2 separate regions of the Homo sapiens genome follow, and region 2 is reported to be linked to region 1. The links are microRNA targets in miRTarBase. Many come from high-throughput screens and were not tested one by one. Region 1 holds a microRNA gene; the other region holds the end of a gene's coding sequence.
What was found. Region 1 holds the annotated microRNA hsa-miR-324-5p (CGCAUCCCCUAGGGCAUUGGUG, at 4,992-5,013, shown strand). A microRNA usually pairs through its seed, bases 2 to 8, with sites in the 3' UTR of a target mRNA and lowers its output. Matches are read on the target gene's strand: a 7mer-m8 pairs with bases 2 to 8, a 7mer-A1 pairs with bases 2 to 7 and ends in A, and an 8mer does both.

Region 1 (7,460 bases):
ACTGGATAGTTACCACCCTTGCACGTATCCTTGAACACTGCAGTTTCGTTTTACCTGTTTTTGGACTTTCTGTGAATGGAACTGTACAGCGTGTACTCTCTTGTCTCACTTGGCAGTATGTTTTTAAGAGTTTTCCATGTTGATGAGTCATCCACATTGTGGTGCCTTCCACCCTCACCTTCTCTAGCCCAGCCGCGATGTGCTTGCTTCTCCCCCTCTTTGTGTCTCTTAATCCATCCTTGCTTCAGACCCCCGCCCTCCTGAGGCCTCCTCTTCCCCTGCGCCCTTGACTGGACTTCTCTTCCCCATAGCCCCATTGTGCTGACTGTGGCCAAGTGCTGGGATCCCTCTCCTCAGGCCTATTTCACTCTCCCCCGAAGTGAGTGACACTCAGGGAGGGGCCTGAAGTTGGGGGTGGGGGCTGCCCAGGAGGCTGGGGCCGGGCCTGTGGTCATGGGGAATGGGTGGGAGGAGGGTCCAGGCAGAGGTGGAACAGGAGGCTGAGTCAGGGAGGGACTGGGCTGGCTTTTGGGGACTGAGAATGGGTCATTTTGGTGCCATCTTTGTCCCAGATGAGCCCATCCAGCCAATTGACCCTGCTGCCTGGGTGTCCCATTCCGCGGCTCTGACTGGCACCTTCCCAGCCTATCCAGGTTCCTCCTCCATGAGCACCATTACATCTGGATCGTCTTTGCCTGATGGTGAGCCGCCAGCCCACCTCATCCCACCCTCCCAGCAGAAGGCTGTCCCGCAGTGGTCTGATCCATTGCCCTTGTGGGAGCGATCCCTGACTCTGGTTACCCGTTGTCTCCTCTGCCAGGCTGTGAAGGCCGGGGTCTCTCCGTCCATACGGACATGGCATCGGTGACCAAGGCCATGGCAGCTCCAGAGTCTGGACTGGAAGTCCGGGACCGCATGTGGCTCAAGATCACCATCCCTAATGCCTTTCTGGGTATGGCTGGGTCCTGGGCAGGTGGCTGGAGAAGGGGAGGAGGTGGTGACCAAAGCCAGGAATGGCACAGGCAGAGGCGAGAGCAGGAGTTGGAAGAAGAACCTGAGGCCTTTTTCCACTGTGGGTGCTCCCAGGCTCGGATGTGGTTGACTGGCTCTACCATCACGTGGAGGGCTTTCCTGAGCGGCGGGAGGCCCGCAAGTATGCCAGCGGGCTGCTCAAAGCAGGCCTGATCCGACACACCGTCAACAAGATCACCTTCTCTGAGCAGTGCTATTACGTCTTCGGAGACCTCAGTGGTGGCTGTGAGAGCTGTAAGTCCCCCTGCCCCAACTCTGGGAGTGTGGCTTTGCCTACCTTGTTCTGCCTCTCCAACCCTAGACCTAGCCCAGAAACCGCAGCCAGGGCCACCATGGATGGTCGAGCAGTGTGTGTCCCGCACTAGGTCCTGCACTGGCCGAGGATGGGGGCTGACGTCCACCCATGTGCTGCTGGACAAGCCATGTGCCAGGTGCAGGACTGTGTCCACCGGGGGAAGGTGCACCTCTTACCTGAGTCCCGCAAAGACGTGGGCTAGTGGCTGTGCCCCTGCCCTCATGGCAGAAGTAGATGGGAGTTTCTTGTCAGAGACCCTTGTGAACCCCTGTTTTGAGCCCCATCGTGGGTGGGTCTGGGAGAACTGTTCCCAGTTCCTCTCCATTCGGTGTCTTGGGGCCCTAGCCTCTTGAAGCAGTGATTTCTTCCTCTCTTCCCTTGCTTTCCAGACCTAGTCAACCTGTCTCTCAATGACAACGATGGCTCCAGTGGGGCTTCAGACCAGGATACCCTGGCTCCTCTGCCTGGGGCCACCCCCTGGCCCCTGCTGCCCACTTTCTCCTACCAATACCCTGCCCCACACCCCTACAGCCCGCAGCCTCCACCCTACCATGAGCTTTCATCTTACACCTATGGTGGGGGCAGTGCCAGCAGCCAGCATAGTGAGGGTAAGTCATCCCCACATACCTGTACGGCCAGGATCTGAGGGTGGATGAGAGGGGAGCCAGGGAGGAGCCTGGGTGAGGACTCAGTTGCCCCTCCCCTCCCTCCACAGGCAGCCGGAGCAGTGGGTCGACACGGAGTGATGGGGGGGCAGGGCGCACGGGGAGGCCCGAGGAGCGGGCCCCCGAGTCCAAGTCCGGCAGTGGCAGTGAGTCTGAGCCCTCCAGCCGAGGGGGCAGCCTTCGGCGGGGTGGGGAAGCAAGTGGGACTAGCGATGGGGGCCCTCCTCCATCCAGAGGCTCAACTGGGGGTGCCCCTAATCTCCGAGCCCACCCAGGGCTCCATCCCTATGGACCGCCCCCTGGCATGGCCCTCCCCTACAACCCCATGATGGTGGTCATGATGCCCCCACCTCCACCTCCAGTCCCTCCAGCAGTGCAGCCTCCGGGGGCCCCTCCAGTCAGAGACCTGGGCTCTGTGCCCCCAGAACTGACAGCCAGCCGCCAAAGCTTCCACATGGCCATGGGCAATCCCAGCGAGTTCTTTGTGGATGTTATGTAGCCCACTGTGGGGCCAGGCTGGGCCGGGCGCTCCTGGTGTGTGACTGGGTGTCCTGGCCGTCATGTGCTTGCTCTTACAGTGCCTGGGCTCAGCCTACCAGCTGCTGCCATACAGGAGATTGTGGCCACTGTGACTCTCACCAGCAGTGCCTGGTTCCTCCCCCTTCCCTCAGGGGTAGACAAGGGACCTTTGATTATTTTTAGCTTTGTTTTTTTATAAGCCTTTTTGGGGGTTAAAATAGAGTTTCTTACATTTTTGGGACTTTTTTAATAGGCATTTCCTCTTTTATATGAAGAATTCCCATCCATTGGGCCCCTTCTAACCCCAGAATGTGACCTCCTCCTCCAGTTACCCACAGCCCTGCCCTTTGCAGGGTTGGGGGTGGTCAGCGGTACCCCGGGGTTAGGCATCCTAGACAGCAGCCTGAGGAAGCTGGGAGATTTGGGCCATGTAGCTGCCTTTGTTACTCTATTTATTTTAGTCACTTGTATAAAACACCAAATAAAGCAATAGAGGCAAACTCCCCACGCCTCTGGCTCCTTTCTTTGGGAGGGAGGCAGGCAGCAGGGGGAAAGAACCGTCACACAGGAGCAAAGCATGACTGGCTAGAAATTTTTATTATTTGCGAGGCAGTAAGTGCTCTTGAGAGCAGGCACAGTGCTGGGAACACTAGGCCCCTTCGGGACAAACCAGGGCCTTAAGGAAAGGGGCTTCGGCTTTGGCTTGAGGGAAGGCACATAACTGGGACAGGCCCTGGCCGGGAGTATTCAGAAGCCAAGTGGGTTGCTGGTGACCACACCACCCCGCTCCACCAAGGCCTTGGAGATGCTTTTGAAGTTGCGGTAGAGCTCTTGCTGCCAGGGGTCAGACTGCAGGGCGGCCATGCCCTCTCGGATCCGAGCTGCAGCCTGGGGAGAGGGAAGGAGGGGTTGGGCCTGCACCTCCAGCCCTCACCTGAGCTTGGCAGCCCCGAGTCTCACCTCGATACACCAGGTGTCACAGAGCATTTTCTCATGCTGGGCCGTGGGGTGGCCCTCACTCAGGGATCTTGAGGCCCTGGCAGGAAGCAGGAGATGAAAATAAATCTGGGCCGGCTGGGATCCAGGCCCAGGCCCCCTGCGGCTCAGGCATTCCCTGCCTGCCTCCTCACCTCGAGAGAACCACCACCATGGCATAGAGGTCGATGGCCCCGTCTGCCAGCCGCTGCAGCAGAAACTGTTCATCTGTCCGGTAGGTGGGGTGGGGGTGGGGGTGGGGGCATTAGTCTCAAGGAGAGGAAAGGGAGGGGCGGAATGGTGTAGAGCTCACTTACTGACAATCCCCTTCTTGTGTTTTATCAGCTTGGCCTCCACCACAGTGGCAAACTGCTCCAGAGCCCGTACTGCCTTAAGAGATGGGGACAGTGCGGGGCTCAGAGGGGCCATCGGCTGCAGTCCCTGATGCAGGCTCTCCTGGACCCCTGGCCACTTACCAGCTCGCCACTCCGACTCAACTCCGGGTGGACAAGTCCGCTGAGACTCAGGCCGCTGCCCAGCCCTGCCCGCCTGAGAGGAAGAGGGAGAATGACTGGTTAGTTGCCATACACCACCCTGCCCTCCCCTGGCTCTGGCCCTAAGCCTACCGCCTCAGCTGTTTGCCTGCCTCTCCTAGCAGGAGGCCAGCATTCCCAAAGGGATTCTTTAGAGCACTGCCAAGCCCAGAGAGCTCCTTTCCTTTGTCCTATGGGGGAAGAGGGTCCAGCAGTCAGGACTCACTGTCCTCCCCACCTCTACCCCCACCCAATTCTCTGTCTTACCATACAGCCCTGCAGAGCCACAAACAGCCGAAGAATGTCATTTGTCCCCTCAAAGATCCGGAAGATGCGAAGATCTCGGAGCACACGCTCTACTCCAGGTTCCTAGCACAGGGCCACACAAATTATATGCCCGTGCTGAGATGTGCCTACCCACCCCTGGCCCAGCCGAGGCTCTGCAGAAGACCGTCCTGTACCTTCATGAAGCCCATACCCCCCATGATTTGGATGCATTCATCTGTCACCTTCCAGGCTGCCTCCTAGGGACAAAGAACAGATGAGACTGGTTTTGGGAGCTGAGCACCCAAACTGGACTCCCTCCCAGCATGCCTGGGACCTCACCGAGCCAAAGATTTTGCTGATGGCGGCCTCTATCTGGAAGTCCGTGGCTCCCTGGTCCATGTTAGCACTCACCATGTAAGCCATGGACTGAGGTTGCATAGTTGGGACATGGGAAGGAAAATTGCAAAGGGCTTTGTCAGACTTGGCCTCATCACCCAGATCTCCAAGATAAGGGCTGACCTAGCTTGTCAGGTCAGGCAGATACTTGTTCTGGGTCAGTTCATCAGGTGCTTCCAGGTATTTGTTTTCTTAAAAGGGGTGGATGTAAGGGATGAGGTAGAATTAACTTCTGGTACTGCTGGCAGGCACCTGAGCAGAACATCATTGCTGTCTCTCTTCGCAGAAGCTGAGCTGACTATGCCTCCCCGCATCCCCTAGGGCATTGGTGTAAAGCTGGAGACCCACTGCCCCAGGTGCTGCTGGGGGTTGTAGTCTGACCCGACTGGGAAGAAAGCCCCAGGGCTCCAGGGAGAGGGGCTTGGGAGGCCCTCACCTCAGTTACATACTGCAGCATAACCATCCGTGCCAGCTTCTCCTGGATCAGCCCAAAGTTGTGAATTTTCTCCCCAAACTGGGTACGATTAGTGGCATGATCTACCTGGAAGAGGGTCCACACATCCCGCTGTGGTTCAGTGTGGTTCTGCAGTCTCCCTAGGAGAGGGGCTGGGCTTGCGCCAGAGGGATGGGTTTTGCATACAACCAGAGTTCAGTCTACGCTGGATGGAGACCTAAGCTAGCAAGTCGGGCTGCTGGTAGGGGAGGAGTTTCTAGTGTAGGGAGTGCCTGCAAGTGATCAGGGACACATGGCAAGGGGGACAGTGAGACTTCTGTTTGGGTTACCTAGGGACTCGGGCAGGGTACTCACCGCCTTAGCAATGATGCCTCTCATGGTACCTGCCAGGGCCGCAGCCATGCCAAACCTTCCATTGTTGAGGATGTGCATGGCAACCTTGAAGCCACTCCCAACCTCACCCAGCACGTTCTCCGATGGCACCCGTACTCCATCAAAGAACACCTCTGCTGTGTTTGAAGCCTTGATGCCCATCTTCTTCTCAGGGGGCCCACTGTGTCAGGGCAGTGTGGGAAAGCAGAGGTGTGTTCAACAGGTTGTCACTGGGGGAAAAACTGCTCCTTCGCTCCTTATGCACCAGGGAGGAATGACGACCACTAGACTATTAGAGGCTACAGCCACCACTTCCCCTCAGGCCCTGAGGGCTAAGGAGGCCTGGCTATGTCCTATTTTGTGTTGGACTTGGTTGCTGGAGCCAAAACTTTAGCTCAGTTGCATACATATTAGTCCCAAAGGCCACATTCAGTCCACCTGCTTTGGCTTTTGCACACGTCCCCAGGGTGACTTGCAACAGCCATCTGCCCAGGAGCCCAGTCCTGCCCCTCAGTCCTAAGCTCCCCCAACCCAAATTCACTCACTGGGTAATGCCCCCGAAGCCCCTCTCCACCACAAAAGCTGTGATCTTCTCCTTCACGGCTCCTGTGGCTGGATCTGTAACTGGTGTCTTGGCAAAGACCGTGAAGATGTCTGCTAGGCCCCCATTACTGTGGAAGAATGGGATATTCAGGGCGTGGAGGACGGGGAGCAGTGGGGCCTGGAATTGGGCGGAGGAGAAGGGGAGAAATGGGAGGCAGGTTGCCTGATCCAAAGCTTGCTTCCATTGAGGGTATAGTATTTTCCACAGGGGCTGGGCACAGCAGAGGTTCGGATGGAGGCTGCATCTGACCCGCTTGAGGGCTCGGTTAGACAGAAAGCGGCCACAGTCTCCCCTGTTGGGGAGAGAGCTACTTTACCCCAAGTTCTGATGAGCTTCAAAGTCCCCTCGGCCCACTTCCCCATCCCTCCAGCAGGCAGTTCCCCCTTAACACCTGGGAGTATCCAGTTCTTTTGCATGTCCCAACCAGCACACTGTGATGCCTCCCCAAAACCTTCCCCCAACTGAAATGCTCAGCCATCTGATAATCTAAGTGCCAACTGGCCTAATCTGTGCCAAGCCCAGTGTGCCCCCCAATCCCTGGCTCTCCTAGGGTTGCCTCACCAGATGCCAGCTTGGGGAGGTATTTTTCTTTCTGGGCCTTTGTGCCAAAGAGCAGGATGCCTTTGAAACCGATGCTCTGATGGGCCCCCAGGGTAATGCCCACGCCAAGGTCATGCATGCCCACGATCTCCACCAAACGGGCGTACTGGAGGGGAAGCAGGAATCTGGGGTTGTCACTGGCTGCAGGGGGACCTGACCTTAACAGGAGAGTGTGGGCAACAGGGCAGTTCCTGACCTAGGGCAGTTCCTGACCTAGGGCAGTGCCTGACCTGGGCCATCCCCAGTGTGTAGAAAAGAAGTGGGGTGTGCAAAGGGCACAGCAGAGAATGCTGGTCTGTCTTAGGTCTAGGTAGGAGGGTGACTTGCTACTAGTCAGTCTATTGTTAGGCAATCCCCAACTTAGAGATTTGTAAGGACTTGGGAACCAGGGTGAGGCCCATGGCTCAGGCCTAGGGGACTGCATGTAAATTGTGTTATGTTTGGACAGTTAACATCCATCCCACAGGCACCCAGGGCAGGTGCTTAGAAGAGACCTTAGCCCTAGTCTCTAGGTCTATGGCAAAAGAGCTGAGTCTGCCAAGCTGGGGTATGGCATACTGGGATGTGGCGATAGGGCGCCCTCACCTGGGTGTTGCAAAGGCCCACACCACCCAGCTCACTGGGCACTTGCAGACCAAAGGCCCCCAGCTCCTTGAGGCCCTGCCAAGTGGTCTCCTCCACCATCTCCAGAGCGTCATTCTTGGCGGGATCGTTCACTTCCTGGGGAAGGCACAGGATCCCACATCCA
Region 2 (7,230 bases), not on the chromosome of region 1:
GCTCCACATGTGGCCGCCAGGGGGCGCCAGAGCGATCTCTGCGGCACTGTCGGCACGGCCGGGAAGCAGCCGCGCCGTCCCCATGGCGACCGTCACCATGGAAGGGCCTTCACCCGCGTCTCCATGGCAACGGCCCAGAGCCTGGCAACCACCGCCCCGCCAAGAGGAACTCAGCCCTGAGCCCGCGCCAGGTGTTTGCTGGGGGCGGAGACAGAGAGGAAGGGGGCATGGCCGTAGGCCCCCCACCCCACCCCCGTCTTCCCGTCTCCCACCCCCAGCCCACGACAGATGGAAAGACAGACGGACGGACACACCTCGGCACAGCACATGTATCACTTACTGCCCGCGCAGGGTTCCCCTGGTCGATGGGGTTCTTGAAGTCGGTCCGCAGCTCATCAAAGGCTATGATCTGGGGGAGGGGCGTGTGCCCGTCAGGGTTGGGGCAGCAGCTTATGGCCTTCCCCCAAGTCCTTCTGTGGGATAGTTTACTGAAGAGGACCAGCCAGGTGGAGCTTGTTGCAAAGGTGGAGAAACCGAGGTCCAGGGAGGAGCAGGGCCTGGTCCAAGGTCATTACAACAGTCCAGAAGGGAACCCTAGCGTCTGGATGCCCAGTTCAGGCCCATGTCCACTACACCCCCTTCCAAAACATCCCAAGACATGGCTTCGTGTCTGCCCTGCCAAGTCTCAGGCCCTGTGCTGAGCACTGGGGCTCCAGAGGCCTGGGATGCAGCCCCTGCCCAGGAGGAACCCAGGCCCAGAGGGATGATCACTCTGCCTTCCAGGTGATCAGGGTTTGGGGTACAGGGAGGACCTGGAGTGGGCGCTTAACCCTGTGTGGGGGGTGAGGGAGTTCAGGCTGGACTCGGAGTAGGTGTTGGTGAGCAAATGGGGGAAATGCAGTCCAAGCAGTAGAAGGTGCAATGGCAGAGGGGTGAAAGGTCAGGAGACATTCAGGAGGCTGCGGGTTTCATGGGGCTGGCGTGACAGCGCAGCGAGCAGGAAGAAAAGAGAGAGTGGTGGAAGAGGAGCTGGAGAATTCAGCAGAGCCAGACATGGGCGCCCTGTGAGGCCAGAGCAGGAGTTTGGACTTACTTTAACACAAAAATTTTGGGGGGAGGCATTGAAGAGTACACAGCAGCAGAGTGGGGTGGTCAGGTCCATGTCTTAGGATTGGTCCATGTCTCAGGATTGGTGGGGCAGGAAATCCGAGCTCACTGACAGTCACAGCTGAGATCTAAGTGGTGCTTCTCCTGGCCGGTATGTGGATTCACTCATTTAATTCTTAACAACCTTATGACTTAGGTACTAGTTTTATTTTCATGTCTGTTTTGCAGATGAGGAAGCTGAGGCAGGTTAAGTGACTTGTCCAGGGCCACACGGCTGGTTAGTGGATTCTAACCCAGTGTGACTCCAGAGTTAAAATTCCTAACCACTGTGTCATACTCAGGCCAGACCAGCAAGGGGACGGTTTGGAGGGTTAGGGGCAGGGCTGATGGTGGTCTGAGTGAGGAGAGTTGTAGTGGAGACGGAAGGCGTGCATGGGATTCTACAGCTCTTTAGGAGCCAGACTCCAGAGGGTTCAAATGGCTGAGAAGTGAAGGCAGAAATCTAAGGTGGCTTCAGGTGTTGGGGTGTCTGGCAGACGGCAGTGTCCTCACGGGTGGAAACTCTCCAGGGGAGCAAGTGTTTGAGGGGATGATGGGATGGGAAGGAGCTGACAGGTGACTTGGGGGAAATGGGCTGGCAGAGGAGCCTGCTGGGGTCCCCTCCTGTCGGCTCCAGCCCTAGGATGAGGCAGCAGGCCCACCACCCCCAGGCATCCCAGGCCCCAGACGGCTCAGAGAGAAAGAACATGGGCTTCCTGGAGGGAGCTGAGGCCATCTGGATCATCCCCCCTCCCCGCCCAGCTCCCCATTGACTCTGGGCAGCGCCACTTGGCACGCACAGCAACAGGGTCCACAGGGAGCAGAAGGGTGCCGTCTGTACCCCAGAGCTGGCACCACCAGCAGGCGGCGGGCGTCACCCCTCCCACCCCCCAGGCTGCCTGGCGCTGACTCAGCCCCCCGGAACAAACAATCCCCCATGGTGACAGCTGACACGCGTCACTCACCGCCAGGGTTGCCTAGGAACCACTGGGGCCTGGGCTGAGGGTCTGGAGTGGGATCTGGGGTCCCGCCCTGTTAAGAGTCTAGTTCTTAGCAGCTGTGGACTGAGGACCACGCCTCCTATCCCCTACCACCCAGCAGGCCGCACTAGGCACTCTGATGTGCACAGGTCCACTTTGCCGGCGAGGAACCAGACTTGGGACAAATGACTTGCTAAGATTGTCCAGCTAAATGGCTGAGTGGACAGAGTACCTCACACAGGTGCTCAATCAATATCTGTTGAATGAACAAAGACATTTCTTCAAAGCTTGGGCCTTTCCTCCCAGCCTGGGCACTCCACAAGGGCAAAGTCTGGGTTTTATTCATCCTTGACCCCCTCAAAGCCACCCAGAGCCTGATCTTTGGGAAGCATCAATGCAGGCGTGGTGGATAAACTGCTGAGGATCCCCTGAGGACAGGGACCCCACAGGGGCTGTGGGAAGGCCCTGGGTGGGGAAGGCCCCAAAAAGAGGCTTCTTGAATTCCAGGAGCCCTTCTCCCAGGAGCTGGTCAGCTCTGCATTCCCTAGCCTGTGGCCCCCAGCTCCCTCCAGTCCTTAGAACCCTAGCCCTCCTGCCCCTACCCCACAGAAAGAAAAATAGAGTAACTCGGGGTGCGGGGGAGAGGGGGAAAGACAAAGCAACCAAGACCCAGAGAGAGAGCAGAGCCAGGCCAAGGAGTGACAGGGCTGGAGCTGGGGTGTGTGCTGAGGTGCCTTTGGGGGCTCACTCTTCACACAGTAGGGGTTCAGTCTATGGATTCCCGATGTCAAAGAGCAAGGTGGCAGGGGATGGCAAAGGGAGCGCAGGGGGAACCATGGAGCAGGCGGCAGGTCCCAGGAAGAGAAAGGAGAGAGGAAGTGGAGAGCCCGGGAAAGAAGCAGGTGAGGCACCGGGAGGAAGGAGGGAAGGGCTATGGGAAATGGGATTGAGGGAGGGATAAGAGGACCCCTGAAAGGGAATGACAATCAGGGAGGTGTGCGCGGGAGGTGTGAGCAGAGGATGCTGAGCTGAGCCAGCCAGGGCCGAGCTGGGCAGGCTGTTACAGAAACAGGCACGGGGTTTGGGTGGGGGTGGGGACGGAGGGCAGTAAAGTGGGGCCAGGGGCCCCCAACAACCAGCTGGAGGCTGATTGATAGTTCTGTAGTGAGGGGACGGGAGCCAGGCAGAGGAGGCCCTGGAGGAGAGGAGCGGGAGGGGAGGAGGAGGGAGCCTGGGGGAAGCGATGGGTCGGATGCAGGATGAGGAATGGACATTTTGAAGAACCAGGTGTGAGGCTAGGCCAGGGCGAGGGACAGACCAAGGGGTATGTGAGAGACAAAGGGGAAGGGGGACAGGAAGAGGAGGGAAGCTGGAAAATGGAGAGGAAACCTGGGGGGCTGGGAAGCCCCCAACAGGAGGGGTAGGGAAACCCAAGGTGAGCCGGTGGTGGGGGCTAGGTCTCTGGGGGCTGATGAGAGCCAACTGCTGCTTGGTCAGGGAGGGGGCTGGGAAGGCAAAGGGTTAATGGACTCTGAGATCTGTGGGTCCTGTAAACAGATGCAGTTGCCATAGCAACCAGCTCCATCACTCTGGCTGGAAAAACCCACAAAGGCGGGGGGGGGGGGGCAGCAGACAGACAAACTGCCCGACGGACTAATGGAGGCGGCTGGATGGTGGTGGGGGGGGACATAGAAGATAAAGCAACAAAAATGCCAGAATTCCACCCCCCACCTCACGGGCTGCATGGGAGCAGAGGACGAGGGCAGAGGAGGGGGTCAGAGACCGACTGACATACACACAGACAGGCGGGGGCGGCGGAGGAAGGGGGGCCCCGGGAAGAAAGCCGACCACGGGGGGTGTTAATGGGGGCGAAGCCGACAAGCCGACGGCTGGGGGATAGCAAGTTTCCCCTGGGCTCTGAGACCACCCGCCCTGGGTCCCTCCAGCTCCGCGTGGCCCCTGCCCCCCACCCCGCCCCCAGCCCCAGCCCCAGCCCGGCCTTACGTGCCAGATGACAAAGAAGATGAGGGAGGCGCACAGCACCAGGGTGAGCATGTAGCAGAACGCGGCGAAGGTGAACGCCATGGCCCCCGCGCCGGGCGGCGGCCCGGGGGGCGCCAGCGCGGGGCCCGGGCGCAAGGGGACGCCCCCCGGCCCGCGCTTAGGGCCGGCCGGGCATGGCCCGTGGGGCTCGGGGGACGTGGGTGATGCGGCCGGGACCGGGACCGCGGGGCCGTGGGGGGCGCGGGGCGCGGGCCGGTGGGCTCGGGGGGCGCGTCCGCTGCCGGCTGCCCGGGCCCCGATCGCTCATCCTGCGATCCCTCGCCCGCGGCTCCCTCGCTCTCCAGCCCGCGAAGCCGGCGGGGCGGAGCCGGGGGCGGGGCCGCCGCGCGAGCGGCCTCGGGCGGGGCTGGGTCTCCGCGGGCCCCTCGTCTGCCCGCCCGGCTCGGGCGCCACCCCCAGCCCCGACAAGCCCGCGGCCGTTCACCCTCCGGACAGCGTAGACGCGGCCGCCCCCGGCACCCCGCACCCCTCGGCACTCCAGCCACCGGCACAGCCGCACTCGGCCCCCTCGGGCGGGCGCTCAGGGCAAAGGCTGAAGTGCGAGGCACTTGTCACTGTCGGAGACGGCAGAAGCACCTGGCTGGGACACACAATGACGCCAGGACAGGGGCTGAATGGGAGCAGTGGGGTTTTGGGGGGCGCTGAAGGAGGTTGGGCCAGGTGCAGTGGGGGCCCTCTCAGCGGCTGCGCGACCCCACACCTCTGCCGTGTGCCCCGCGGGAGTTGGCGGCGGCACGCCAGGTATGAGCTGATGGCCGCCTGCCTCTTTCCCTGACAGAACGGTGCTGGGCCCTTGGGGACAGACCACAGAAGCACAAGCAGCTTTCCTGGCCTCAGGAAACGGGGTCAAGGGCTTTTGCCAGCAGCCTTAGGACACAGAAACCAAGCCAGGACCCCCGTGCACCCCACCAAGCCCAGGGTTCCAGTTCCATCCCCCCACCCCAAGGCTGGGCTTAGACCACAGACCACACTTGGCCACCACAACTTCCTTGCAAAAACCCTCAGCTCACCCGAGGGCCAATGGAAATTTATTAATTTTTTTTGTCCTTTTCCATCTTTCCCCAAGTGGCTTTTCCTTGCAAAATGCCTGACATGACACCAGAGGGGAACCTGGGAGCGGGGGGCACCCCAAGGGGGCAGCCCAGGGACTTAAATACAAGCTGGAGGGCAGGGCACAGGTGGGACAGGCAAGAGACAGCACGAGGGACATGGCTTCTCAGGGAGACCAAAGACTTGCTTTCTTGCAGGAAGCAGCTGTGCCAGAGGGCAGGGGACTAGGATCCTGGGTGCAGAGTGGGTGAGCAGAGAGGCCCCCAATCCTGGATGGAACCCACATTCCCCAGAGAAGTAGCGGCAGGGGATGAGGGCCTTCCCTGGTGGGCTCCAGAGACGGAGTGGGGAGTGAGCCAGATGTGCTACCTTGGGGAAAGGGAGGAGGTGCTAGCAGAGTGAGGGTTAAGGCTGGTGCCCAGCCTCTGGCACGGTGGGCCTTCCGCCTCCGCCTGACATGGGGACAAAGGGGCACGGTGGGCAGGCAGCGCATGGGTCTGTCTCTGGCAGGGCAGAGGGCGGCAGGAGCAGACTCCCTCCAGGCTCAAGACACAGGCCCAGCACTGCTACCCGCCCACCCGCCCTAGATATACTCAGATCCCACCGCAGCTGGACGGCTCGAGCTGGGAGTGTAGGAAGGGAGAGGAGGCAGTGGGGAGAGGAAAGGGTGGGCTGCTGGGCCCCTGTGGCCTCCATGCCTGTCCTGAGGTCCAGCCCAGGGCCCTGGATCCCAGGTCCTGGATCCCCTGGCCACATTCCTCGCCCTGGGCACTGACTGCAGCCAGGGCAGTAGAGGCCGGGGAGACCCTCAGTTCTTGGGCAGGACAGCAGGAAGAAGAAGGAGAGAACCCAGTGCAGCATACATGGGGGTGGGAGGGACACCGACAGAAGAGCCCTCGTTCCAAAGAAAGGTGTGTAGGGGGGCATCTTGGAAAGTCACCTAGAGGCAACAGCACAGCAGGCCTCCGCCCTGCCTGGCCACAGGCCCTGAGTGTCCTCCCTTAGGGACCCTGACAGAACCGGGGCTCAGGGCAGCAGGCAGATGGGCCAGAAGGAGATGGGGAGCCCAGGACACCCCAAAGCCACAGACTCAAATGCCCCAGGAGAGGGAGAGGGAGGTACCTCCTGCCCCCTCCAGGGACATCATCTGGAGAAGGTGCCCCCTCCTGTCCCACTCCATGTGCCCCTCCTAGCAACAGCCACCGCCAGCCGGCTTTACAGGGGTGCTGTCGATCTTGAGATTGGGCCGCTCGCCCCCAGAGGCTGCTCCAGGCCCCATCCGCTTTTTGATTTCAGCAGCCATGGTCATGAACGCCTGCTCGACATTGGTGGCATTCTTGGCGCTCGTCTCCAAGAAGGGGATGCCCAGAGAGTCTGCAAACTCCTGACAAGGGAGAGGAGAGAAGAGGAGGGGAGAGAAGAGGAGGGGAGAGCAGGTGAGGGGCAGCAGGCCCCAGCGCCCCGACCCCGGGCAGACCGGCCCGTCTGCTACCTTGGCTGTGGTGTTGTCCACCACCTTCTTGGTGGTGAGGTCGCTCTTGTTGCCCACCAGGAGCTTATTGACGTTCTCGCTGGCATAGCGGTCAATCTCCTGCAGCCACTGCTTCACGTTGGCGTAGGATTCCTAAAGGGGGCCAGGGGCCAAAGTTATTTTGCTCCCAACTGTCACCCCTACCCCAGGCCTGGAGAAGACCTTCTCTGAGGGGAACAGTACAGCTCCGGGCCCCTTAAGTCCTGGGCTCAGCGATGCAGAGATGCAGAGGAAGCCCTCTGCTCCAGGCTGAACCTTCCTCCCTGCCCTCTTCCATCCGAGACCCAGAACAGCCCCAGCAGCCTGCCAGCTGCCCCAACACCTCAACAGCTGCCCCAACTTGGGCCTGCCAGCTCTGCTCCCTGCAGCTGTCTCTCTCCCTGAGACACTTGCAGGCCCTAACCACATGTGAGAAGCAAAGAGAGAGCGGACGGGAGATAGGAACAGAGAGTAACGGGT

Region 2: miRTarBase lists RAB1B as a target of hsa-miR-324-5p. The part of its 3' UTR that is shown has no 7-base or 8-base seed match.

The regions. Positions count from the first base shown.
Region 1 is chr17:7,220,896-7,228,355 of GRCh38, reverse strand. It overlaps MIR324 (microRNA 324), which reads left to right and starts at 4,977; the gene lies at 4,977-5,059. It overlaps ACADVL (acyl-CoA dehydrogenase very long chain), which reads right to left. Exons shown (of 20, transcript NM_000018.4): 6 at 7,298-7,432; 7 at 6,674-6,818; 8 at 6,275-6,404; 9 at 6,054-6,179; 10 at 5,491-5,689; 11 at 5,119-5,223; 12 at 4,626-4,712; 13 at 4,481-4,543; 14 at 4,287-4,388; 15 at 4,113-4,210; 16 at 3,963-4,035; 17 at 3,804-3,876; 18 at 3,642-3,714; 19 at 3,472-3,547; 1 more. The coding sequence ends at 3,259. It overlaps DVL2 (dishevelled segment polarity protein 2), which reads left to right. Exons shown (of 15, transcript NM_004422.3): 10 at 312-379; 11 at 573-701; 12 at 821-952; 13 at 1,087-1,266; 14 at 1,717-1,935; 15 at 2,043-3,014. The coding sequence ends at 2,491. RefSeq lists an enhancer at 2,901-3,400.
Region 2 is chr11:66,275,438-66,282,667 of GRCh38, reverse strand. It overlaps RAB1B (RAB1B, member RAS oncogene family), which reads right to left. Exons shown (of 6, transcript NM_030981.3): 5 at 6,733-6,864; 6 at 5,176-6,624. The coding sequence ends at 6,430. It overlaps CNIH2 (cornichon family AMPA receptor auxiliary protein 2), which reads right to left and starts at 4,493. Exons shown (of 6, transcript NM_182553.3): 1 at 4,131-4,493; 2 at 341-409. The coding sequence starts at 4,211. It overlaps LOC107984340 (a long non-coding RNA gene), which reads left to right and starts at 4,143. Exons shown (of 2, transcript XR_001748274.1): 1 at 4,143-4,173. RefSeq lists an enhancer at 1-222 and a silencer at 4,388-4,717.